Homo sapiens: one gene and its partners. The protein of the gene in region 5 purifies or fractionates together with the protein of the main gene of each other region. This does not show direct contact. Each region holds a gene or a part of one and is shown on either strand. Other genes may lie near its edges. The genes, in order: TSPAN15, SLC37A3, ECI1, MVP and CD276.

Region 1 (3,548 bases), on a different chromosome or scaffold from region 5:
CAACACCCACAGCAGAGACTTCTCCCAGCACCCACACTGCCCAAGAAGCTCCCACCTGGGCCCCCTCTCCCCTTCCCAGGAAATCCCAGAGCGCCTCGCTGTGCCCCATCAGCAAGGGCCCCTCCCTTCTGGGATTCCTGCCTCCACCCCAGCTCTGCTGCACACTATCTAGGGGATCTTGGCAAGTCACTGAAGCTTGCTGCTCCTCAGTTTCCTCCTCTGTGAAATAGGCATTATAATAGTGCCTCCCTCACAAAAAGAAGTGAAGCAGCAGTGCCTGCGCAGCACTTGGAAGAGCTTCGCCACGACTGCTATTGCCATTTGCCCCTCCTTCCAGCCATGCAGCCCTCCCCAGGCAAGTCCTGGACTTCTATGAAAAAAGCCTCTTCGCTCTTCCCCTCTGCACCTTCTCTGCCCTTCTGCAATCACCAAGTCACACTTTCTCTGAACCCACGGCCTGCCCACCTGGGGAAGCAGGATGCCCAGGAGGATGCCCGCCATGATGGTGTAGTTGTCCATGAACCAGATGATCACGGCGTTGGTGCAGCCCCGCACGTAGATGACATCCTGCACACTGAAACGCTGCATGGGAAGGAGCTGGGTCAGCCCAGCAGAGGACCTCGGCTGGCAGGAGCCACAGCCCCGACTCTGCCATGTACACAAGGTCCAGGCTAGTCCCTCAACCGCTGTGATCCTCAGTTTCCCATATGCAGCATGAGAAGGTGACCCTAGATTCTGATTCTTAATGGACAGTACTGTTCTCTAGAGAGGACTGGGGACACCGTGGTGGCACTTTTGGTTGCCCCAGCAAACGAGGTTGGCGGCTGAGGGACTGCAGAGCTCAGGGTAATCCTACTCCACAAACAACTGCCCTGCCTGTGTGCTTCTCAGATGTCCCTGCATGAAAAGCCTCACGGATGTTTTCCATACATGAAAAGCCTATTTATAATTATCCAAGCCAATAGCCCCACTCCAGGTACATATAAAAAACAAAGCAGAGTTGGGCATGGTGGCCAGTGCCTGCAGTCCCAGCTACTATGGAGGCTCAGTTGGGAGGAGTGCCTAAGCCTAGGAGTTTGAGGCCAGCCTAGGCAACAGTGAGACCCTGTCTGTCTCTTAAGGGAAAAAAAAAAAAAAAGCATTTCTGCATTGGTTTTAATATACAAAGAATTTTCCAGAAGTACTACTAGGTAAATTAAGGAATGATTACACATTATTTAATTCAGAACTTTATCAAGAATTGTTCACCGTTTTTAAAAACCATGCCAGTGGCAAAAATGATGCCCATGGTATGTGAGTCGCCAACACAATGCCCAGTATCAGCTGCCCTGTAGCTACTACAGCCTCAGGGATGCCTCACATCAGTGCAGACACCTGACTACATTGTGTCTTCTGCACCCCCCACTGCCTAAGCACTTACATGATGAACTATGTTAAACAGCTGTAAATTGCTGTATTTCATTTCTACTTTATCTCAGATCATTATGTTAATTGTATTGGAATTGGGCATGTAGGTAGGTTATCTGTGAATTTCACTTGGGGATAATAAATAGGACATTACCACTGTTTGTTATAAAAATGGCCATTGGTTCTGAGGGGCTGAGAACCACTGCTGGTCTATGGCTCTCAAGCATGTGTCAGAATCACCCACTAGCCCCATACCAAGAATGTGCATTTCTCACATTCCTAGGGGATGCTGTTGCTGCTGGACTGGGGACCCCACTTTGAAAGCCACTGCTCTGCATGTCAGGTCACTATTCCTTTTAGGTCCCTTCTCAGCACCACCCCTGCTTCTCTCCTAGACCAGGGGTGTTGCCCAGGAAGCTGACCCAGGAGCAACCCCCAGAGGGGGTTACCATCCTCTAGGACTCCTGGGTCCCAGGTGGCCCCAGGGGCAGAGGCAAGCTGGTGCTGAGCATGGCTGGGCACACAGCACGCTGCGGGTACCAGGAAGCGCCGTGGTGGCTTCATGTGGAACAGCCCACAGTAGGTGCTCGGCAAACCCTGACAGGCGGCATCTCCCAGCCTGGGGGAATTCTTGGTTCCCTGAGCCCTTCTGTGCTGGGGTGGAAAACCACAGCAGTCCTGGCTCTGGGTCACAGCCAGGAATGTGGGAAAATCTCAGTGGCCAGGACCCCGACCTCAATAAACCCCTCCGATCACCCCAGGGTGGACCAGGAAGAGCAACATTTCCAGGGAAAGGCATTTCAAAGACATTACCTCCTTGTCGATAGTTTTGTAGCCACACATGGTGTTGACAACTTCTGTCTGAAATGGAAATGTATAATAGCTAATATTTATAATGGTTCTAACTCAAAAAGGCACTATTATCCTACCCATTTTACAGATGAAAACCGAAGCACAGAGTTGCACCGTCCAGCAGGGATGGAGCTGAGATTCCGACCCAGGCAGTCTGGCTTGAGTCTCCATCATAACCACCTCCTCCTCCAAGAAATGCCCCGTGAAAAAACTGTAGGAATGCAGGTTCCATGACTTTTACCTGGGAGAACCACCCCTCCACTAGCAGCAGATCAGGACCCCAGAGAAAGGTGTGCTGCCCACGCTCCCGGGCTATGACCGCCCCAGAGCACCGCTTTGCTCACACCGTCTCAGAGGTCGGGGTGGGGCTGTTCCTGCGCCGCTGGCTCTTGGGGAGGAAAACTTCAGACTACAGCTGGCACAGGGTCAGCTGTGGTTTACCTGAGGTCCAGGGCAGGGCCCCTGGCCATGCTTCCGTTCCATAGACCACTGCTCCACCAGCGGAGAGTGCTGCCAAAACTTCCTTCTTGGGAAGAGAGGTGCTCTCCAGAACTCCCGACTACTGATTAATTTAGGCATAGGGAAACCTGTGGTCACGCCCTAGACCTCATCAAACCCCTCCCCAGGCAGGCCCTAACTCACAGGCTGCCGCGGGCACTTCCCATCACCACCTGTGCCCCGCAGGGTCTCCTTCTCCAACCACCAGGGAAGAGAGTGAGACTTCCTGGTCCAGCCCATGACCGTCCCCCCCAGCCCCGCTGCTCTACATGTAAGTGAACGCTGCCGTGAGTGCTGCAGGCGCCAGTGATGACTCAGGAGGGCAACAGCAGAGCCCCCAGCGTGCCCTCTGGTGTCACATTTCCTGGGTCCAGATCTTGCTCTGCCACTTAGGAGCAGAGCCCAACCTTAGGTGGGCTGCTAAGGAACTGGCACGCAGAGGTACTCAATACATATTTGTTAACTGAGAAAATGAATGAATGAATAGGTTGTGATGATCACAGAACCCACCTCCTAGGGCTGTTTTGGACATAAAGTGAGATACACATATAAAGTGCTTATCACGGGGCTGGGCACATGGAGGAGCACAAGAATGCTGGCTGGCGTGATTTGTTCACAATTCCAGCCCCTGCAAAGGAAAGGGAGGGTGTCTTCTCTCCTTCCGAGAGAGGGTTGGGCCTCAGATGTCATCTAGGTCATTCTAAATGTCAGGGCTTGATGTGCAGGCAAGACGACCTCCCTCGGTTTAGCTGGTTCTCCAGGTAGCCTCAGTCCCAGCCATGCCCAGTGCC
Region 2 (4,697 bases), on a different chromosome or scaffold from region 5:
CAAATTAACAAAGCAAAAGAGATGCCAGTTTCCTCCCAAGACAAATAAAACTATGTGATGACAGGTTTCCCAGGCATTCACAGGACAATGCAAAGGTGGCATATCGGGCCTTGAAGCTGGTCTCCAGGCTCTCCCCAGCACTGGTCACTGACTCCAAACAAATGCCTTATTCCAACCAGATTAGGGGAGCAAAGGAATTAGTAATTGCAAAAGAATACTCACGACTATACCCGATGAGGGACCCAACTGCCAGAAGCAGACTCAGGGCAAGAACCGGCGCTCTCTTCTGTAGTACATCAGAGATGAAGCCTTGCAAAGTTCCACCTTCAAGCAGAGTGTCGAGCAATCAAAATCACTTCTAATTTAGCTCGCTCACCTGAGGCGTGCTCCCCATTTGCCCTCTAGTCTCACTAGCAGCAGCCTGACACTAGTCTATCAAAAAATATGGCTGGGCCGGGCTCGGTGGCTCACACCTGTAATCCCAGCTCTTTGGGAGGCTGAGGCAGGTGGATCACAAGGTCAGGAGATGGAGACCATCCTGGCTAACACAGTGAAACCCTGTCTCTACTAAAAATACAAAAAAATTAGCCGGGCGTGGTGGCGGGCACCTGTAGTCCCAGCTACTCAGGAGGCTGAGGCAGGAGAATGGTGTGAACCTGGGAGGCGGAGCTTGCAGTGAGCCGAGATTGCGCCACTGCACTCCAGCCTGGGTGACAGAGCGAGACTCTGTCTCAAAAAAAAATAGGTCTGACTCCCTGAAAAGGGGTCCTCCATAACTTCCTTTTAGGAATAAACTGTCTGTTAAATCACCATGATGACCAGTGGGGACAGGAGACCACAAATCAGACAGCAAAACATGAAAAAAGGAAAAACTGTCAAAGCCATCGGCTATCCCTTACAAAAACAAGTTGTGAATGCTATTTTTGATTTTTCTTTTTAATTTGAAAGATAATGAATTAAGAACTATGCCTTGCTGGGCATGGTGGCTCATGCCTATAATCCCAGCACTTTGGGAGACCAAGGCTGGGGGACTGCTTGAGGCCAGGGGTTCAAAACCAGCCTGGGCAACACAGTGCCCTTATCTCTATAAAAGATAAATTAGCCGGGCATGGTAGCACGTGCCTATATTCCCAGCTACTTGGGAGGCTGAGGTAGGAGGATGGCTTGAGCCCAGGAGGTTGAGGCTGTGGTGAACCGTATCGTGCTGCTTGAACCCAGGAGGCTGAGGCTACAGTGAGCTGTATTGTGCCACTGCACTCTAGCCTGGGCAACAGAGCAAGACCGTGTCTCAAAAACCAAAAAAACTGTGCCTTACAGTATATTGAGGCCAGTAGGTGGGCACAGTGGCTCACGCCTGTAATCCCAGCACTCTGGGAGGCCGAGGTGGGCAAATTGCCTGAGCTCAGGAGTTTGAGACCAGCCTGGGCAATACAGTGAAATGCCATCTCTACAAAAAATACAAAAAAATTAGCTGGGTGTGGTGGTGCATGACTGTAGCCCCAGGTACTTAGGGAGGATCGCTTGAGCCCAGGAGGTTGTGGCTCCAGTGAGCCAAGATCGTGCCACTCCAGCGTGGGCGACAGAGCAGTACCCCCATCTCCAAAAAAAAAAAAAAAGAAAAAAAAAAGTGGCTAGTAAATATTCACTAAAATAAAATTTAGCAGTTATGGTTTGCTAATAGGACACAATCTTTAAAAAGCAGGGATATGAATCTTTCAAGCAACAATGTCACATACAGCACCATTCTGAGTTGTAGGGGCTATTGGACATCTGGTGTGTCCTTATCAGATAGCAGGCAGCTGGACAATTTCAACTTCAGAGGATACAGAATATGGTGAGGTCTAACGGTGGCAACCTCACCTTTGGCTCTGGATTTAAGAATACGGGCAGCCAAGTTCAAATACAGTAATAGCAGATTGCCTAGCACAGACTGTGTGCTTTCACAAGCTCACGGCAGTTGAGTCTCACCACAATTCTAAATGTTAACATTATTGAAGGTTATTAAGATCTGGCACAGCCATGTAAGTAATACCCACTAAAATACATTCTGCTCCTCTGCCTTACTTCCTTGTTCATACTTATTACCTCCTTGTTGATACTTCTAGCTACAGCAAAAAAAAAAAAAACCACTATTAAAATCTTTGTTTATAATGAAACAACTGTAAAACATTCACAAAAATTAATCCCTGCTGTTACGTCTACCTCTATGATCTGACGACCTACACACTAAGGTGTATTTCCCCTTTATCCTCAGCAGATATGTTCCATGACCCCCGTGGATACCTGAAACCACAGACAGTACCAAACTCTATACATACTATGTTTTTTTCTATACATACATACCCACGATCAAGTTTAATTTATAAGTTGGGCACAGAAATTAACAATAACGACAAAATAGAAAATAATAACAATATACTGTAACATAAGTTATATGAATGGTCTCTCTGAAAATATCTTATTGTACGGTATTAAGAGTAACTGAAACTTCGAAAAGTGAAACCACAGATAAGTGGGGGACTGGTGTATTCTTCCTTATTAGGCTGGGGAAGGTGGGGAAGGTGGGAGGTAGATACAATGAACACGTTCATATTCTAACTTGGATCTCTGACATACAATTAGCTTTAGAGCTAAGATATCACTGAGAAAGCCGTATGAAAGGATTGCATTTAAAGAGATTCCCATGTGCTTCCCGAGACAAAAGAACTGATCCATCAACAAAGGACTAAGAAAAAAGAGTCCAATAAATCACAGCGCTGCCTTAGGCTAGGTCTTCCTTTCTATGGACCTCTTGTTTTTTCTTTTCTTTTCTTTTCTTTTTTTTTTTTTTTTGAGTTTGGCTGTTTACTAGTAGGACAGTTTAGGGAAAATGGCTGTAGAATAAGTAATAAAACTTTAAATGAGGCCAGATTTCACAACCCAGTAAAAGATCACTAGTGACTAACTCTTTATTATGGAAAAGATGTATCACCGGCATACCTATGATCCCTCCAACGTCGTACCAAATGGACAGCTTGTCGGCTTCCGCCTCCTTCCAGCCGAAGTTGTTACTCAGATAAAAGGGGAGCCAGAAGAAGAAGGAGTAATTCACTAACTTCAAGCAGGCGTAGGCCAGTGAGTACTACAAGAAAAGCATTCAACTATCAGCGAGGGACAAATAGCACAGCACGACTACCATTTTTAATGTCATTTAAAAGCAAAACAAAATAAAGGAAGTTAGGATGAACAGAACCTGATTTTACAGTTAAACATCTCTACAAACTCCCACATGCCTGACTTCAGCTAGTCTCCCTCTGCTCTTCATCCCTGTTAACTTCTAGACAGGCATGTACAGCAGGCCTTTGGAATAAAAAACACCTATGGCTACTTCTTAGCTGTGTCCAGTTTCTCCTCCTATCAGTTCTCTGGTAGAAGCAAGCCAGTGTTTTGAACCTATAAGGCAGAGCACATACCCATATTTCTTTATTCACACAAAGAGGAATGGTATTCATGCCACTAACCAGCGTTAACCATAGGCAAAGAAGTCCAGGAAGCATCACGGCCTTTACTGGGAGCAGCCAAACGGGGTTGGTTATTCTACTCCTTGCCAAGGCAACACTGTGAACAATGGACAGCAAAGGGACTACACTACAGTTCCACGGTCTAAGAAAAGCAGCAGCATGATAATTCCTTTCACACTAGTTTTCAAAAGCTCCACATTCCCTGGTCTGGTGGCAAAGAAGAGAGTCTCTCTGGCGAGTCAAAAATGAAAGAACATGTCATCATCGGCCTCGTGGCTCTCCCTTGAGGGGAAAAAAATGCTGCAGCTGCATGAAGATGGTGGTGGGGCTGAGACTCCTATATTCAACACATTACTACCAGGAAATCCTGACATTCAGCATCAAAGGAAAAAGGGGGGGGGGACAGAGGGGCTGACTTCAAAGGGTGTCTGGCTAGTATATTCTTTTCCCTGGAGCTGCCAGTTATTCCCTAGGTATCACTTGTTTTAAAACAGCTTCCCTGGCAGGCAACAGCCACCCCCTAGAGAGCCAAATCCCAATCACGAGTGCATTCTGACCAGACAGCCTGCTACAAAGACAAAGGAATTAAGTTAACTAGATTTCCTTTACATCCCTGCCCATGTCAGAGAACAATAGCTTGTGAAGAACAAAGGAACAGCAAAAGAGGTCCATATTTAGTCACGACAAAGTTCTTTCTCAAAAATTAAACTATTACCAGCAGAGTACTTTAAAAACCAGTTAAAAGATAATAATCAATAGCATAAGAACAGGTCTAAAGCAACCTGCATTTCTCTTATATCATATATCATCACTGGGTTAAAGAATTGTGGAAAATTACATTTTAATTCATACTTAACTTTGTTGGAAATGTTAGTTCTCTCAGCTTGGAGGCACTGACAGAAGGGGATTGACAGGCATGTATTAAGATGGCCTACAGATCACTCTACCTGAGGGATCACATTCATAAAGCACCATTGACAAATGAAATAACAACAGGTGCTTGTTCAAAACACAACAGCCCAATGTTACAGGCCCCAGGGAAGAGTGGAATAATTTCTATTCCATGGGAAGGGGAACTGAGACACACGGACGGGTTGCGTGACTCACCCCAGGTGTCACAGAAAGTTAGTGGGTAAGCTGGAAACATAACCTAGGCCTCTTAACTTCCACTCCAGTGCTAGAGTGCCCGAAACATCA
Region 3 (5,487 bases), on a different chromosome or scaffold from region 5:
TACAGGTATGCGCCACTATGCCCAGCTAATTTTTGTATTTTTAGTAGAGATGGGGTTTCACCATGTTGGTTGGCCAGGATGGTCTCGATCTCTTGACTTCGTGAACACCTCGCCTCGGCCTCCCAAAGTGCTGGGATTACAGGTGTGAGCCACCATGCCCGGCCAAATTAACCATTTTCTATCTTTATTTTTTTTTTGAGACAAGAGCCTCGCTCTGTTGCCCAGGCTGGAGTGCAGCAGCGCTATCTCGGCTCACTGCAACCTCTGCCTCCTGGGTTCAAGCCATTCTTCTGCCTCAGCCTCCTGAGAAGCTGGGATTACAGGACACACCACCATGCCTGGCTAATTTTTGCATTTTTAGTAGAGACGGGGTTTCACCAGGTTGGCCAGGCTGGTCATGAACTTCTGACCTCAGGTGATCCTCCTGCCTCGGCCTCCCAAAGTGATGTGATTATAGGTATGAGCCACTGTGCCCAGCCTAAATTAGCCATTTTTAAGTAAACAAGTCAGGCACTTACACAATTCAGTATACTGACTGTGTTGTGCAACTATCGCCGCTGCCTAGTTCCAGAACCTTTTCATTGTCCCAAAAGGAATCCCTGTCCCCATGAGCAGTTGCTCCTCATCCCACCCCTAGCCCCTGGAAGCCGCCAGTCTGCGTTCTGTGTCTGCGGTTTTCCTGCTCCAGCCATATTCCATATCACTGGGATACCGCCGGGCTTTGTTGTCGGCTTTGTCCACTTAGTATCATGTGTTCAAGGTTCATCCATGTGGTTGTCATTCCTATTTATTTATTTATTTATTTTATTTAATTAATTAATTTATTTTTGAGACAGATTCTTGCTCTGTTGCCCAGGCTGGAGTGCAGTGGCGCGATCTCGGCTTACTGCAAGCTCCACCTCCGGGGTTCACACCATTCTCCTGCCTCAGCCTCCCAAGTAGCTGGGACTACAGGTGCCCGCCACCACGCCCGGCTAATTTTTTTTTGTATTTTTTAGTAGAGATGGGGTTTCACCGTGTTAGCCAGAATGGTCTCAATCTCCTGACCTCGTGATCCGCGCACCCTGGCCTCCCAAAGTGCTGGGATTACAGGTGGGAGCCACCGGGCCCGGACTCAAAAACATGTTATCTTAAGGTATTGGAATGGGTAGTGTGGACTACACATTGTGAATATACTTACGGCCACGGGGTTGTACATTGCAAAATGGCTAGAATGGTAAATGTGAGGCATATTTTAAAGATTTTTATGTACACACACACACACATTACCTCCGGTAAAAAAGGAAAAGTGTTCGTACAATGACAATTTTTTTACTCGAGTGCCTCCCCACTTTACCATATAAAAAGACAACGTAAGCCGGGCGCGGTGGCTCACGCCTGTAATCCCAGCACTTTGGGAGGCCGAGGCGGGTGGATCACGAGGTCAGGAGATCAAGACCATCCTGGCTAACATGGTGAAACCCCGTCTCCACTAAAAATACCAAAAAAAAAAAATTAGCCGGGCGTGGTGGCGGGCGCCTGTAGTCCCAGCTACTTGGGCGGCTGAGGTAGAAGAATGGTGTGAACCCGGGAGGCGGAGCTTGCAGTGAGCGGAGATCGTGCCACTGCACTCCAGCCTGGCGACAGAGCAAGACTCCGTCTCAAAAAAAAAAAAAAAAAAAAAAAAAAAAAGACAAAGTAGAGTTTGGAGTCAGAAAGTCAGGCCTGACTGAGATTGCAGTGAGCCGGAACCGCGCCATTGCACGCCAGCCTGGGTGACAGAGGGAGCCTCTGTCTCAAAAAAAAAAAAATAATAATTTTTTTTTTTGCATTTTGTTGAGATATATTCAAATATGCTACAGAAATGATCCCTTCAGAAACTCAGTTTTTACAAAAATTAGTGGGCATAGTGGTGGGTCCCTGTAATCCCAGCTATTTGGGAGGCTGAGGAGGGAGAATCGCTTGAACCCAGGAGGCACAGGTTGCAGTGATCGGAGATTGCGCCACTGCACTCCAGTCTGGCGACTGGAGAGCAAGACTACATCTCCAAAAAAAAAAAAAAAAAAAAAAAAAGTCAGTTTGAAGTTGGTCTTAGTTTGTCCCTCTCAAGTTTGTAGAGAGAGCCCAGGCAGCTCCCTCAGCCCAGACAGAGAGGACGGAACCAAGTTCAGAGGCACCAGGAGCCTGGAGTCCTGAAGCTGTGCAAAGTTGGGCACAGCCCTGAGTCTGGGGGGTTGGGGAGGGCAGGGGCTGTGACTTACTTGCGGAGGGGGAGGGCCTCCTCTCAGGAGCCACAGCAGGGACTGCTGCACCGGGAGGTCCAGGTCAGCATGTCCTGGAAGCAGAACTGCTGGCGCCTAGGCGTGCCCTCTCGGTGCCCTCAGCTCGGCCTCCTGTCTGGAGGGAGCGCACAGGCTTCTCTTCCAAAAGTACTTTTTCTATCCTTTCCAGTGGGTTTTACCAAGGGTTCTGACGGGCGGGTAGGTACGAGGTTCTGTGCCACATGGGAGTGTTAACAAACGTAATTTTATTCCAAAAGATTCCAATTCTTTTCCACTTCCAATTGAATAACTTAGATAACAGCTCATATCCCCGCCAACTTTATTTTTATTTATTTATTTATTTTGAGACGGAATCTTGCTCTGTGGCCCAAGCTGGAGTGCAGTGGCACAATCTCGGCTCACTGCAGCCTCCACCTCCCAGATTCCAGCGATTCTTCTGCCTCAGCCTCCCAGGCATAGGCACGCACCACCACGCCCAGCTAATTTTTTTCTTTTGTATTTTTCAGTACAGATAGGGTTTCATCATGTTGGCCAGGCTGATCTCGAACTCCTGACCTCAGGTGATCCGCCCGCCTCTGCCTCTTAAAGTGCTAGGATTACAGGCGTGAGCCACCGCGCCCGGCCTCCGCCAACTTTAAAAACAGAAACTTTTATCTCATGACGAACGAACCCAGGTAGAGCGGCAAGGTTCTGTTTCGAAACTTGGGTTCTAAACACAAACCGAGCGTCGACAGACGTGGTTCTCCGACAGCACCCCGCGAGCGCGGACCCCCGCGGGTCCTGACCCCACGCCCGCCCTCCCTCGGCGCCGCCCGCTCACCTGCGCCCGCGTCCGGCTCCACCAGCACCCGCTGGCTCCCGAAGCGCCGCGCGCCGTCTCCGCCGCCGGCCGCCCGCTCCGTCCGCCCGAGGGCCGCGCCCGGGAGCCGGGCCCCTGCGAAGGCAGCGTGGGGGAGCCCGTTAGTTCCCGGTCCTGGCCCCGGCCCCGGCCCGATCCCTGCCCACCCCGGGTTTCGCACCCGCGCGGAGCAGAACGCGCGCCGGGACTCGCACAGAAGCCACCAGCGCCATCTTGACCGCAACGCGCGGGATAAAGGTCGCGGGCTGAGCTCGCCTCCTGGGGAGGGGGCGGAGCCCCCCCAACTAGGTCCCGCCCCGTTCCCAGAGGCTGGTCAACGCCTCCACCTACCGGCCGAAACAGCCGCTCGCCGCCCTCCGGCTTCACCCCGGGCAGCCGCGCGCTTCCGGGGCAGGCACCTGGATCTGGGCCAGGGCTGGCCTACAAGGAGGCGCAGGCCCACTGCTGAAGCAGCCACGACCAGCTCAGCGCCAGGGCAGGCTCTTCTACAGCGCGGGACACTGTAGGCAAGAGGCTGCCGGTGTTCGTGACCGCGAGCTCTCGGCCGGGCCCAGCTACTGCAGTATCGGCGCTGGAAAGGCGATCAAAGCACGGAACCCCTCCCGAGGGGGCCGTCAGGGAGGCCAGGGGCTGCCTGGGGTGAGCCCGGCCTCCTGCCCCTTTGGGAACAGGATCAGAGCTGCAGGTTTAGTCACCGAAATGGGGGTGGGGGCAGCAGAACCCAGCGGTAAGAACAGGCCACCCGCCTTGCTCAGCACAAGGGCAAGTGCACAAAGGCCGGACCGCAGTGGCACCTTTTTATTTGCAGAGAAATGCCGAAAGATAAGAATACAGTCTGTTCCCGCTGGGCCGTAAGCGGCAGCTCGGGAGTGGGCCTTTGTACTGTCTGGTGTGGGGTTTTGGTCAGACCACTGGGAGCACTGGGCAGTAAGGTCCCAGCTGTGTTGGGTGGTCTCAACTTTTGTTCTCATCTTAAGCATTTCCAATTCTTCCTTGTGTCCCAAACCAATTTTTGAGGTGGAAAAATGGCCACTTAACGGAGGAGGAAGCAAGCCTGGCATGGTGACACACACCTGTAACCCCAGTGACTCAGGACCAGCTGGGTAACATAGCAACAACTTGTTGCTACAAAAAATTCTTAAAAATTAGCTCCTGCTGCTGGGCGCGGTGGCTCATGCCTGTAATCCCAGCACTTTGGGGGCCAAGGTGGGCAAATCATGAGGTCAGGAGTTTGAGACCAGCCGGGCCAATATGATGAAACGCCGTCTCTACTAGAAATACAAAAAATTAGCTGGGCATGGTGGCAGGTGCCTGTAATTCCAGCTACTCAGGAGGCTGAGGCAGGAAAATCACTTGAACCCAGGAGGCAGAGGTTGTAGTGAGCCAATATTGCGCCACTGCACTCCAACCCAGGCAACAGAGACTGTCTCAAAAAAAAAATTAAAAAATTAAAAAAAAATTAGCCCCTGCTACTCTGGACACTGAAGAAGGAGTTGGAGGCTGTAATGAGCTATGATCGCACCATGGTACATACTCCAGCCTGGGTGACAGAGCGAGAGTCTGTCTGAAAACACACACACATTCCAAGGTGGCGATAAAACCATCTCCTTCTATTTGTCCACCCTAGGAGCAACCTGGTCCCCACAGCACACAAACCCTAGGTTCTCCTGGCTGAAAGCATCGGAGGTGCCACTGCGGATGGTGAGGAACAGAAAGTTACTAGGGGCGAGGGGACAAGTGAGAAGGCAGTGAACCCAGAACTAGATTTGCATTCCGATCTTGGGTTTATTCAACACAATTCTTCCACTCTACACAACAAAGTACAAACACAATGTCATCTAAAATGCTACAAAGGTATAAAACTCAAAAGAGAAATTTTATAGTACTGACTGTACAATGAAAGCAAAAAAGAAAAAAAATAAAAGCAATGTACATGTTGCCAAGATAACCTGAAAGACCACCATGAACGGCAGGCACAACCATGGCTGCGTGATGACTCCGCAGAGCTGGCTCTCCACTCACTCGCCAATTTCAGAGTACAGTGGTGGGGTGCGGTGTGTGCATCGGTGCACGGACAGACAGAACCACGAGCAGCAACTACCATGGGTGAGAGGATCTTTGAGGGGGTGTGACCCTTGAGGTCAGAAGAGGCCTCGAGAGGCCAGGCCTAACAGGGTTGGCAGCTGCACTAAAGCCTGGGGCAGCTCCCTTTCCAAAAGGACACTGCCCAGCAACAGCAAGGGCACGGCCTGGCCACCATCCCAGGTCATCGGGGAAGGGAAAAGTGTGCTCCCAGGTAAGCAGGGTCAAACCACCCCCAAGAGCCTCACTTTTCCCTGGTGGCTCTGCCACTGAACTGACTCTTAG
Region 4 (4,697 bases), on a different chromosome or scaffold from region 5:
GAGTTGGTGGTGATCTCGATGGCCAGCTGGACGCTGCGTTGCAGGGCGTCCCGGGTCCTCTGATCCACAGGCTCCACTGACTGCACGTCCACACTGCTGACCACCAGCCCGTTTTGGGGGAAGACAGCCTGGTCCCGGGGCCTGGGCAGGGCCATGCCATCGGGGCCCTTCGCTTCCGAGGTCTCAAAGCCAAAGACAGCAGTGCGAATGATGCGGGCTGAGTTCTTATGGAAGTCATCGAAAGTGACAGAGGCCACGGCCCCCCGCACCCGGGATGCGATGGCTTTGCAGGCATCACCTACAAAGTCTGGCACTGAAAAGAGCTTGGCCGTCTCTTGGGGGTCCTTCCGGTCATTCACCTCAAAGTGCCTGTGAACAAACAGGCCCAGAATGGGGAAGCTGCTTTCACCCAGGAATCTCTCTTTAGAAGAGACAAGGTCTTGCCATGTTGCCCAGGCTGGTCTTGAACTCCTGGGCTCAGGCAACCCCCCAACCTCAGCCTCCCAAAGTGCTGGGACTACATGTGTGATCACGCCCAGCCAGCAACTCTCTCCGAGAAGAACTTCAACACCCATCCTGTGTGGCCGGGCAGGGTCTCTCGCAATAGAGAATGCTAATGTATGCCTGGTAAGGTCCTAAAAACTTAACACACGTTCTCCTTTAATCCCACTCAGCCACCCTATGAGATGGCAATGATCACCACCCCCATTTTACAGATGAGGAAGTAGAGGTCCAGGGAAGTCAAGTGGCTGGCCCAAGACTTGCCATATAACATGTGACAAGCCAGAAAGCTGAACCAGGCAGCTGCTTCTGGGGCCTGTGCTCTTAACTATGATGTTGTAGTGCCTGGGAATATGTCGGCAGCCCTGGGAATATGTCGGCAGCTGTCTGCCGCCATCAGGGCACTGGCTGCTCTCAGCTAAGAGGTGAGGGACATGCTTGGGAGTATTGAATATTCTTTTTGGAGACAGTCTTGCTCCGTCGCCCAGGCTGGAGTGCAGTGGCTCGATCTGGGTTCACTGCAACCTCCGCCTCCCGGATTCAAGAGATTCTCCTGCCTCAGCCTCTTGAGTAGCTGGGACTACAAGCTGGGACTACAGGTGCCCACAACCAGGCCTGGCTAATTTTTGTATTTTTAGTAGAGACAGGGATTCACCATGTTGGCCAGGCTGGTCTCAAACTCCTGACCTCAAGTGATCTGCCTGCCTCAGTCTCCCAAAGTGCTGTGATTACAGGCATGAGCCACCACGCCTGACCCTCCCTCCCTCCCTTCCTCCCTTCCTCCCTCCCTCCCTCCCTCCCTCCCTCCCTCCCTTCCTCCCTTCCTCCCTTCCTCCCTTCCTCCCTTCCTCCCTTCCTCCGAGACAGGGTCTCTGTGGGTCTCTGTTGTCCAGGCTGGAGTGTGGTGGCACAATCATAGCTTGCTGCAGCCTCAAATTCCTGGGCTCAGGCAATTTTCCCACCTCAGCCTTCCAAGTAGTTGGGTCTATAGACATGTACCACCATGCCCAGCTAGTTTATAAATTTTTTTTTTTTGAAACAGAGTCTTGTTATGTTGCCCAGCCTGGTCTCAAACTCCTGGCCTCAAGCAATCCTCCTGCCACAGCCTCCCAAAGTGCTGGGATCACAGGTGTGAGCCACAGTACCCAGTCATGAACACTGTTTCTGTACATGACTTATCTCACCCAATCCTAATAGCTGCTATTGAGCTCTGACCAATAGAGGCACTGTTCTAACACTCATTGCATCTTTTCAATGGCCTTGTGAAGGAGAAAATGCTGTCTTCCTCATGTTACAGATGGGGAAACTGAGGAAAGCACCCTGTCCCTTCCCCAGGTCCACAGGCTGCAAACAGCAGGGCGGGGGCGCAGGCCAGGGCAGTCAGTTTCTGAACTTGAGTTCTCACCGCCCCCTTGCACTGCCCACTCCCGCCAGCTGTGTCCCATGCATCTTTTAACAGCCCGACAGTTACGCATTTGGCTGCACGCTCACTGGGAGCTTAGTTGGGGTAGTGTCCTGCTACTGGATCCCTGAGTCCTGACCCCAGGAGGTGAGCCCACGCCTTCCCTGGATTTGCGTGAACTCCTAGGTTCCCTCTTGACCTCAGCACTGAATGAGGTGTCCTGCCTTCATGAGGAGCCCAGCACCAGCACTTGAGCAGGACCCTCCTTTTCTTGGGGTTCCTAGGCTGCACCCAGCAGGAACCCTCACCCACTGCTTGCCACCCGGTTTGTTTTTTTTGTTTTGAAACAGGGTTGACCGGGTGCAGTGGCTCATGCCTGTAATCCCAGCACTTTGGGAAGCCGAGGCAGGCGGATCACCTGAGGTCAGGAGTTCGAGACCAGCCTGACCAACATGGAGAAACCCCATCTCTACTAAAAATACAAAACTAGCTGGGCATGGTGGCACATGCCTGTAATCCTAGCCACTTGGGAGGTTGAGGCAGGAGACTCGCTTGAATCCGGGAGGTGGGGGTTGCAGTGAGCCAAGATCGCGCCATTGCACTCCAGCCTGGGCAACAAGAGTGAAACTCGGTCTCAAAAAAAACCAAAAAACCAAAAAACCAAAAAACTAAAAAAACAAAAAACAAAGAAACAGGGTCTTGCTCTGTCACCCAGGCTGGAGTATAGTGGGGCCATCAAGGCTCACTGCAGCCTGGACCTCCTAGGCTCAAGTGATCCTCCCACCTCAGCCTCCCAAAGTGCTGGGATTCCAGGAATGCACCCCCATGCCCTGTCCCCATTTTTACCAGTTGTAGGCCAGCTGCAGTTGCAGCCTGGCATGATCCGCCGTTTCGATGGTGATGACGTCTGTGAAGAAGTCAGGCCCCAGCAGCAGGCAGAGCGCACGGCGGGCATGGGGACGCTTGGGCCGCCCAGCTGAGAGGGACAACACTGTGAACTGCTCCTCAGGACCCAGCGACACCAGCTCAGGCCCGAAGACCACGCTGCAGAGACAGCCGAGGGTCAGAGCCAGACCCATGGAGAGCCACCCCCTACACCCTGCGCTGCCAGCACTCACCGGGCTCGCTTCTCTCGGTAGTCGTACACCTGCACCGCAGCGTTGTGGGGCACGCGGTAGCTGACCACACGGGTCTTGTTCCGGGGCGCCAAGGGCTGGAGGCTCTTAGCTGTGTCCTTCTCACCCCTGTCTGCCAGAGGGTCCTGCCCCTTGTTCAGCAGCTCCTCCACCCCGGGAGGCAGCTCTTTCTCCCACAGGACTTCGTCCTGGGTCAGCATGTAGGTGCTTCCAATCACAGCGCGCACCTTGGGACGAGGACAGGGAGGGAAGCTGCCCGTAAGGGTGGAAGGGAGGAAGATCCGCCCAGCTGTCCCAAAGCAGAGCCCATCCAGGGAAGGCGCGCCACGAGGTTAAACACCTTCTCTACGGGGAGGCCAGGCTCCACCCCGGGTTTGCCATCTGCTGGCCCTGTCATCGTGGGCTAACTACCTCACCCCTTGGGCTTCAGTTTCCTCATGTGTCAAGTGGACTTGACGGTGGCTACCTTGCAGGGTCTAGGGGTGAATGACATCTTCACATGTCTAGCTCAAACAGCTCTTGGCATAGAGAAGGTGCTCAATGTTATTTCTAGAATCTTCCTTCATGGGGCAGTTTGGAGGGCACCTCGGGGATGGTGAAGTAGGCTGTGTACACGGATGCTCCCTCGGATTCCAAGCTGGACTTCCAGCTTGGATTCTTAGAGAAGGTTGGAGATGTGGCCCGAGGTCAAATCAAGGTCAAGGTTTTAGGTGAAGCAGAAAAAAATGAAAGATTCCACCGGGATATGGGCATGAGGGAGGAGGTCCTTCCTGTTCCCTGGCCACCCCATCAGACCTTTATGCTGGAAACCAGGTCTGCTGTGGGAAAGGGTCCCTGTCCTAAACCCCCACTTGTCCTCTCAGTGGACATGCTAATATTTTTTTTTGACAGAGTCTCACTCTGTCACCCTGGCTGAAGTGCAGTGGTGTGATCTCGGCTCACTGCAACCTCCGCTTCCCAGTTCAAGCAATTCTCCTGTCTCAGCCTCCCAAGTATCTGGGACTACTCAGACCACCACCACGCCTGACTAATGTTTGTACTTTTAGTAGAGACAGGGTTTCCCATGTTGGCCAGGCTAGTCTTGAACTCCTGACCTCAGGTGATCCGCCCGCCTCGGCCTCCCAAAGTGCTGAGATTACAGATGTGAGCTACCGCACCTGGTTGGTTCTAACATTTCAAATGAGACATTTAAGGCAGAAGGATGGCAAACACTCCACGTAGTGCCCTCCCCCAACCAGACAGCCCACCTGATATGGCTCTCCATGCTGCTGAAGTCCCTGCCCACCTCTTCCACACACCCAGAGGAAGCCGCCACCAAGGCCAAGGCCACGTGGCAGCACTGCTGCTCACTCCCAGCCATTACCTTTCCGGTCTTGACATCCTGCACATAGATGCCCTCGTTCTCGTCTAGAGGGATGGCCTGGCGCTCCTCCACCACCTCCACTTTGGCAGATGGCACATACTCCAGGGGTCCGCGGATGAGCCAGTGGTCCCCAGCCTGGTGTGAGACCTTCTCCTCATCCTCCCCCTCCTCCAGGGGCTGCAGGGCCCTCAGCAGCAGCCCCTGCTGCTCCGACAGCACATACACATCCTGGATGCCTTGTTCCAGCTGCTCTCCTGGCTGGAGGAAAAAAGACTTCTCTCCCTAGTGGGGAGAC
Region 5 (5,281 bases):
TGGTCCTACACATGTGCTATCTGTGCCCTGCCCAAGCTGTTTCCCCCTCCTAGGGGATCAGAGCCCTCTCAATCTGCTGCTTCCAGGAATGAGAGCCAATACACATTTCCTTCCCTCCTGACCTCTGCTCTTGAATGATTATTTTAAAATCTCCCCCCATAGACACACTATAAACTGCTCTGTGATGTTCCTTCACTGTCCACCATGGCTGAGTCATGCCAGATTATAAATCCCTTAGGACAGGACCAGCGTCACCACCGCAAGGCACAAGGCACAGGACTGACTCTTTGTGAAGGGAAGGAAAGTAAGTTTCTCTAGATCTGTTCAATGCCACCTCCAGGGTCCTGCAGCAGGGCTCCTAGCTCCCTCAGCCCAAGGACACCTCTCCATGTGATGCTACTTCCCCAGGTTGCTGGGCCAACTGGAGGCTACTCATCCTGAGACCTGTAAGGCCAGACCCAGGCTGGACGAGGCTGGTCAGGGCCTGGCAGGGCAGTGGGGAGCAGCGTGGAATGGTCCAGAGTTCCTGGAGGTGGTCAGGGACAAGACAGCTGGGCCTCTCTGCTGTCATCCCTAGGAGCAGTCAGCAATTACACAGACACAGCTGCTGTGTGATTCAAAGACACATATGCACGTAGACTCAAATACAGAGTTGCTTGAATGTGTTCACAAATATACACACCCGGCCGGGCGCGGTGGCTCACGTTTGTAATCCCAGCCCTTTTGGAGGCCAAGGCGGGTGGATCACAAGGTCAAGAGATCGAGACCATCCTGGCCAAAATAGTGGTGCGCACCTGTAATCCCAGCTACTCTGGAGGCTGAGGCAGGAGAATCGCTTGAACTCAGGAGGCGGAGGTTGCAGTGAGCCGAGATTGAGCCACTGCACTCCAGAGCCAGACTCTGTCTCAAAAAAAAAAAAAAGACAAAAACCCCCCACAAATATACACACCCATGCACCACCACCCCTACCCATACACCACACGCACACTTAAATTCAGAGGGCAAATCCCGGTTCCTCCCTTCATAGCTATGTGTCCCCAAGTTACTTAATCTCTTTGTATCTTAATTTCCTTATTTCCGATCTGTAAAAATGAGAATAATGGTATTCACCTCAATGAGTTGTTGTGAAGATTAAATGAGATAAAATGGTAAAGAGCTTACAACAGTGGCAACACATGCAGAGAGACGCACATGTTTTCATACTCATTTCCCAAGCCCTGCCCAGTACTGCCACTGGCACTGGTGGTGAGCCTGGCAGCAGTACAAGGTTGGAGTCCCTTCATCCCTTTGAGCCTTGGTTTTCTCATCTGTGAAATGGGAATAATAATATCTAGCCGGCGGGGCTGTTTGGAGGAACTAAAGAGGCCCAGCATGGAAAGCTCCTAACCTAACTCTGGCCCACAAAAGTCTCCCTACGTTTTAGCTGTCACTGTCCCTGTGAGGAAGAACAGATCCAAGAACAGGTGCAGGGATGGGCTGCACCACAGCAAAATCTGGACAGGCCCGACCCCCATCTCCTCCCAGGCTGGAGCGGGGCCCTGTAAGGACAGAGCCCAAGGCCACTAGGTGTCAGGCCTGTTGGAGCCAAGTCCGGCCAGCAGTCTGGGGTGGGGCTGGGGGCAGGGCTGGTCGGATGGCCGTGGGTGGAAGGAAAAGAGGAAAACCAGCTCAGTGGAAATTGTCCTGCGGTTGGCTCAGGCGCCCACGACACTGTATTTATAGAGAGCTCCTTGCAGCTCTTAATTCCTCGCAGTCGAGTTAACCCTTTCTGGGCTGTGGTGCCAGCATGGTGTGGAGGAAGAACCCAAGACTGGGGTTGGACAGCAGGATTCCAGCCCTGTTCTGCCGCCAGTCGATGACCAGTCAGTCACCTATCCCCTCTCGCAGAAAGGAAGATTCGGCTCTTGGAAGTGTGGGAACGGGGTGGGGGATGGGCAGCGCCCTGCTCCGGGAGCCGAGGGTTTTCCCCGCCAGGGTCAGGCCTGGGGGCGGGGCGGGGCGGGGGCGGGGGCCAGGCCGTGTGCTCTGCCCAGCGGGCTGGCTCAGGCCTCGGTCAGCAGCCGCCACCGCGGGGCCAATCCGGCCTCAGGGACGCACCGGAGCCGCCTTTCCGGGCCTCAGGCGGATTCTCCGGCGCGGCCCGCCCCGCCCCTCGGACTCCCCGGGCCGCCCCCGGCCCCCATTCGGGCCGGGCCTCGCTGCGGCGGCGACTGAGCCAGGCTGGGCCGCGTCCCTGAGTCCCAGAGTCGGCGCGGCGCGGTGAGTGCTGGCGTGGCGCGGGCGGCGCGGGGTGGGGCGGCCTTTGTCTGCTGCGGGCCGGGCCTGGATCCCGCGGAGGTCCGCACGTTCCCGCTCAGGGCTGCAGGAGCTGAGCAGGGCGCCTTCCCTCCGGGCTCCTGCTCCCCTGCCCTCCCCCAGGTCCGGGCGGCCCCCCTCGCACAGGAGTCCCGGGAACCGCGGGCGCCCCTCCTGCCCTGGGCTGTGGGGCCCGCGGAGAGCTGGGGGCTCCCGGATCCTACCCCGCCCCCCTTTCCTCGGGTTGAGAGGGGCCCGGGCGCCGTCGGACCTGCAGACCCCGGAAGCTGCGGACCGGGCCGGGTGGGTGAATGCGCTTTTGCAGGCCCCGGGTCTGGAGCGGGCATGGGGGCAGATCTGTCCCGTGTTGAAGCTTAACGAAGCCACCGGCCGGCGCTGGGAGGTTAGCGGGGTCTCGGGTCCTGCAGAGGAAAACGCCCAGCTCCGGGAGGGGAGCGGCGGGGAGGGAAGGCGAGTGGTTAGGCGTGTCCACTCTGCAGGGCCCAGCAGGGCGAAGGTGTGGGCGACTGGTGCACTTCCACAGGCAGCCGTGGGCAGCATGAGGGGTCAGATTCCGGGAAGGACAGGTAGAGACGGCTGGCAGGGGCCACGGGGTGAATAGGTGTTGGGGGTGGGGAGGGAATTGGGATGGGCAGTTTGGGCTTGGGAAGCCTCAGGGAGGTGGGGGGTGAGGTGGGATGGAGAGGAGATGCGGGCGACGGTGGAGGGAGGTGGGGACCCCGAGTGGGGGCACACTAGAAGGGAGGGGATTGAATTCCAGCGCCCAGGGCCCTCCCTGCGACCGTTTAGCTAGCGAATTGGCAGGTTTGGCAGCCTAAGGCAGGGGATTTATTTCTAAGCCAAACCTGCTCTAATGAGAAAAGCGTGATAGATGACTCAGATATGGGATCTATCACTGAGGGAAAACATTAAGCAAATAGTAAAGCAAAAAAGATTTGTGTGTGTGTGTGTGTGTGTGTGTGTGTGTGTGTGTGTGTGGCGGGTGGGGGGGTGTTAGTTGTCTTAATTTAGAAAAACGATTTACCTTCAAATTGGATGTGGATAATTGTAAATGAGTCTGATCTCTTCATTAAAGCCCGGGGTCCTTTTCTTATAAGCATGTCTTCAGCAGTTAGTTTCTATATTAGAAAGTAATGAAGCTGCTTTGTCTTTAAGAGAGTTCTTTATTTAGTGCGGCCTCCTCTAGTTCCCTCTGGCCTCCCAGAAGTCCCTAGGAAATCTGATGCTGTGCAGCCTTCCTTGTAGTGTGGGGGACTGCAAATAGGTGGGACAGTTTGAGGCTGAGGGGAACTGAAGTCTAAACTTGAAGTCTAAACCTGTCCGATGGGTTGAGCTGATCTGAGTGCAGGGCAGGATGGAGGGCTATGGGGCTGTAGGGTATGAAGTGGCTCATTTCAAGGGAGTATTTTGGGTGAGTACATTTTCCTGATATCTGGAGTTCTTGAGATTAAGCACTAACACTTAGGGTAACTGTTGACCGTGGAAATTTACATACGTCACCGTCAGCTTACTGGAGTATCCTGATGTGAATGAAATTTTCCTTCATGACTTTGGGTCAGCCCTGTGGACCTCAGTTTTTGTTCTGAGGGGTTGTATGGCAAGGGGACGCTGGCGGGAGAGAGCTTCGTTCCTGCATTAAGTGGCCTCAGTGATGCAGTCAGGGTCCCATGACTGACCTTTGGAGTTCTTCCATGTCCTTATGGCATTACTGGTGGTTTCTCCTGCCTGCAGTAAGCTTTCCAGCTTACTCTAGACTCCTGTGCTGTGAGACATGAGCTTGTCAGAGGTAAGGAGCCTGTGTTAATGCAAGTCTCAGGTGAGAAGGGGTGTTGGAATCTGAGGACCCTGTTTTCCTTCCTGTCCCCTCTTCAGCTCTGTCCAGGCACCACCCGATGGAGGGTTGGCTGAATGTCTCATGTTCATATACCTGACAGCTGGCTTCGGTGCTTTAATATTTATGGAAAGGACAGTTATAGAAGTGTGGTCCCTTCAAAGTAGTCCTCTGGGGTGTCTGTGTCCTTATTAGGTTGACTTCTGAAACTTCCTGTGAGAATTCCATCATTAAACTTTGGCTTTCTCTGGAGGGGTAAATCTTTGTTCTTTGGAGTAGGATTTGAGTTTGACAAGGAGCTGGACAATGCTGTTTGGAGTCAGAGATGCAGTGTGATAAGAGAGCTGTGAGTTGGAATTCCACAGCACCTAAAGAGACTCCTAGAAAATGTTGTAGAACAAGTGGCTGGATGGTACTTGGTTGCACATACGGGGTTTGGGGTCTGTGCAGAAAAATGACCAAATCCAAGCAGCCTCTGAGATTATGACCACATGGGGGCTGTTAAGCTGTGGATCTGAGTCATAGGGTCAGGGAAAGAGGAAAAATGGCAAGGAGGATGACGTTACTGCCCATGAGCTTATCCTCTGAGTGGGTGGCGACTTCTCATTGTCCTTTTCCCACATCCCCAGGGCAGGAGTGTTAGGGAAGTCCACCAGCAAAAGGGGGAGGGCACACCCAGGGCCTAGGGGAGGGGGAGAGGGGTGAGGACTGGTCCACATGATTTTTGAGAAATTGCCTTTGGTCTTGTTGGCTCAGAATGGACCCCACACCTGGAAGGGGGCCACGTGTACAGTTATGCAACCCTTGCCTGCCACCCCCAGTTCTACCGCCCTTGCAGTGTGCCAGATAGGAGCATTGGGTTTTCAGGTTTGGGAGTGGGTAGGGTTGTGCTGGAGGCTAAATAGACATTATCTCATGTAATCCTCATAGTAATCCTATGAGGTAGGGTATCATTAACACCATTGTACAGTTGGGGAAACTGAGGCCCAGAAAGGGTAAGTCACATGCCCAAAGACACACAGCCGGCAAATGGTGGAGCTGGGCTGTTGTCTGCTTCCAGAACTGGCTTTTTCTGCTGCTCTGGAGGTAGGCACAGGTTTTACCCCTCTTTCTGGAGCCCGGTAAGATGTGCCA

What was found.
Region 1: the proteins of CD276 (region 5) and TSPAN15 purify together in Homo sapiens (co-immunoprecipitation; one large-scale study listed by IntAct). This does not show direct contact.
Region 2: the proteins of CD276 (region 5) and SLC37A3 fractionate together in Homo sapiens (co-fractionation; one large-scale study listed by BioGRID). This does not show direct contact.
Region 3: the proteins of CD276 (region 5) and ECI1 fractionate together in Homo sapiens (co-fractionation; one large-scale study listed by BioGRID). This does not show direct contact.
Region 4: the proteins of CD276 (region 5) and MVP purify together in Homo sapiens (affinity purification with western blotting; one study listed by BioGRID). This does not show direct contact.

Annotation. Positions count from the first base shown.
Region 1 is NC_000010.11:69,503,158-69,506,705, reverse strand, and holds part of TSPAN15 (tetraspanin-15), read right to left. Parts: intron 2,269-3,548; coding exon 2,221-2,268; intron 583-2,220; coding exon 466-582; intron 1-465. UniProt on the Homo sapiens protein: Part of TspanC8 subgroup, composed of 6 members that interact with the transmembrane metalloprotease ADAM10.
Region 2 is NC_000007.14:140,345,647-140,350,343, forward strand, and holds part of SLC37A3 (sugar phosphate exchanger 3), read right to left. Parts: intron 3,122-4,697; coding exon 2,980-3,121; intron 325-2,979; coding exon 223-324; intron 1-222. UniProt on the Homo sapiens protein: Unlike the other SLC37 members, lacks glucose-6-phosphate antiporter activity.
Region 3 is NC_000016.10:2,248,235-2,253,721, forward strand, and holds the start of ECI1 (enoyl-CoA delta isomerase 1, mitochondrial isoform 1 precursor), read right to left. Parts: upstream 3,354-5,487; 5' UTR 3,333-3,353; coding exon 3,281-3,332; intron 3,196-3,280; coding exon 3,082-3,195; intron 1-3,081. UniProt on the Homo sapiens protein: Key enzyme of fatty acid beta-oxidation. Able to isomerize both 3-cis (3Z) and 3-trans (3E) double bonds into the 2-trans (2E) form in a range of enoyl-CoA species, with a preference for (3Z)-enoyl-CoAs over (3E)-enoyl-CoAs.
Region 4 is NC_000016.10:29,840,165-29,844,861, reverse strand, and holds part of MVP (major vault protein), read right to left. Parts: intron 4,685-4,697; coding exon 4,403-4,684; intron 3,267-4,402; coding exon 3,022-3,266; intron 2,948-3,021; coding exon 2,750-2,947; intron 370-2,749; coding exon 1-369. UniProt on the Homo sapiens protein: Required for normal vault structure. Vaults are multi-subunit structures that may act as scaffolds for proteins involved in signal transduction. Vaults may also play a role in nucleo-cytoplasmic transport.
Region 5 is NC_000015.10:73,682,202-73,687,482, forward strand, and holds the start of CD276 (CD276 antigen isoform a precursor), read left to right. Parts: upstream 1-2,181; 5' UTR 2,182-2,259; exon of another isoform or gene 2,260-2,698; intron 2,699-4,017; exon of another isoform or gene 4,018-5,281. UniProt on the Homo sapiens protein: May participate in the regulation of T-cell-mediated immune response. May play a protective role in tumor cells by inhibiting natural-killer mediated cell lysis as well as a role of marker for detection of neuroblastoma cells.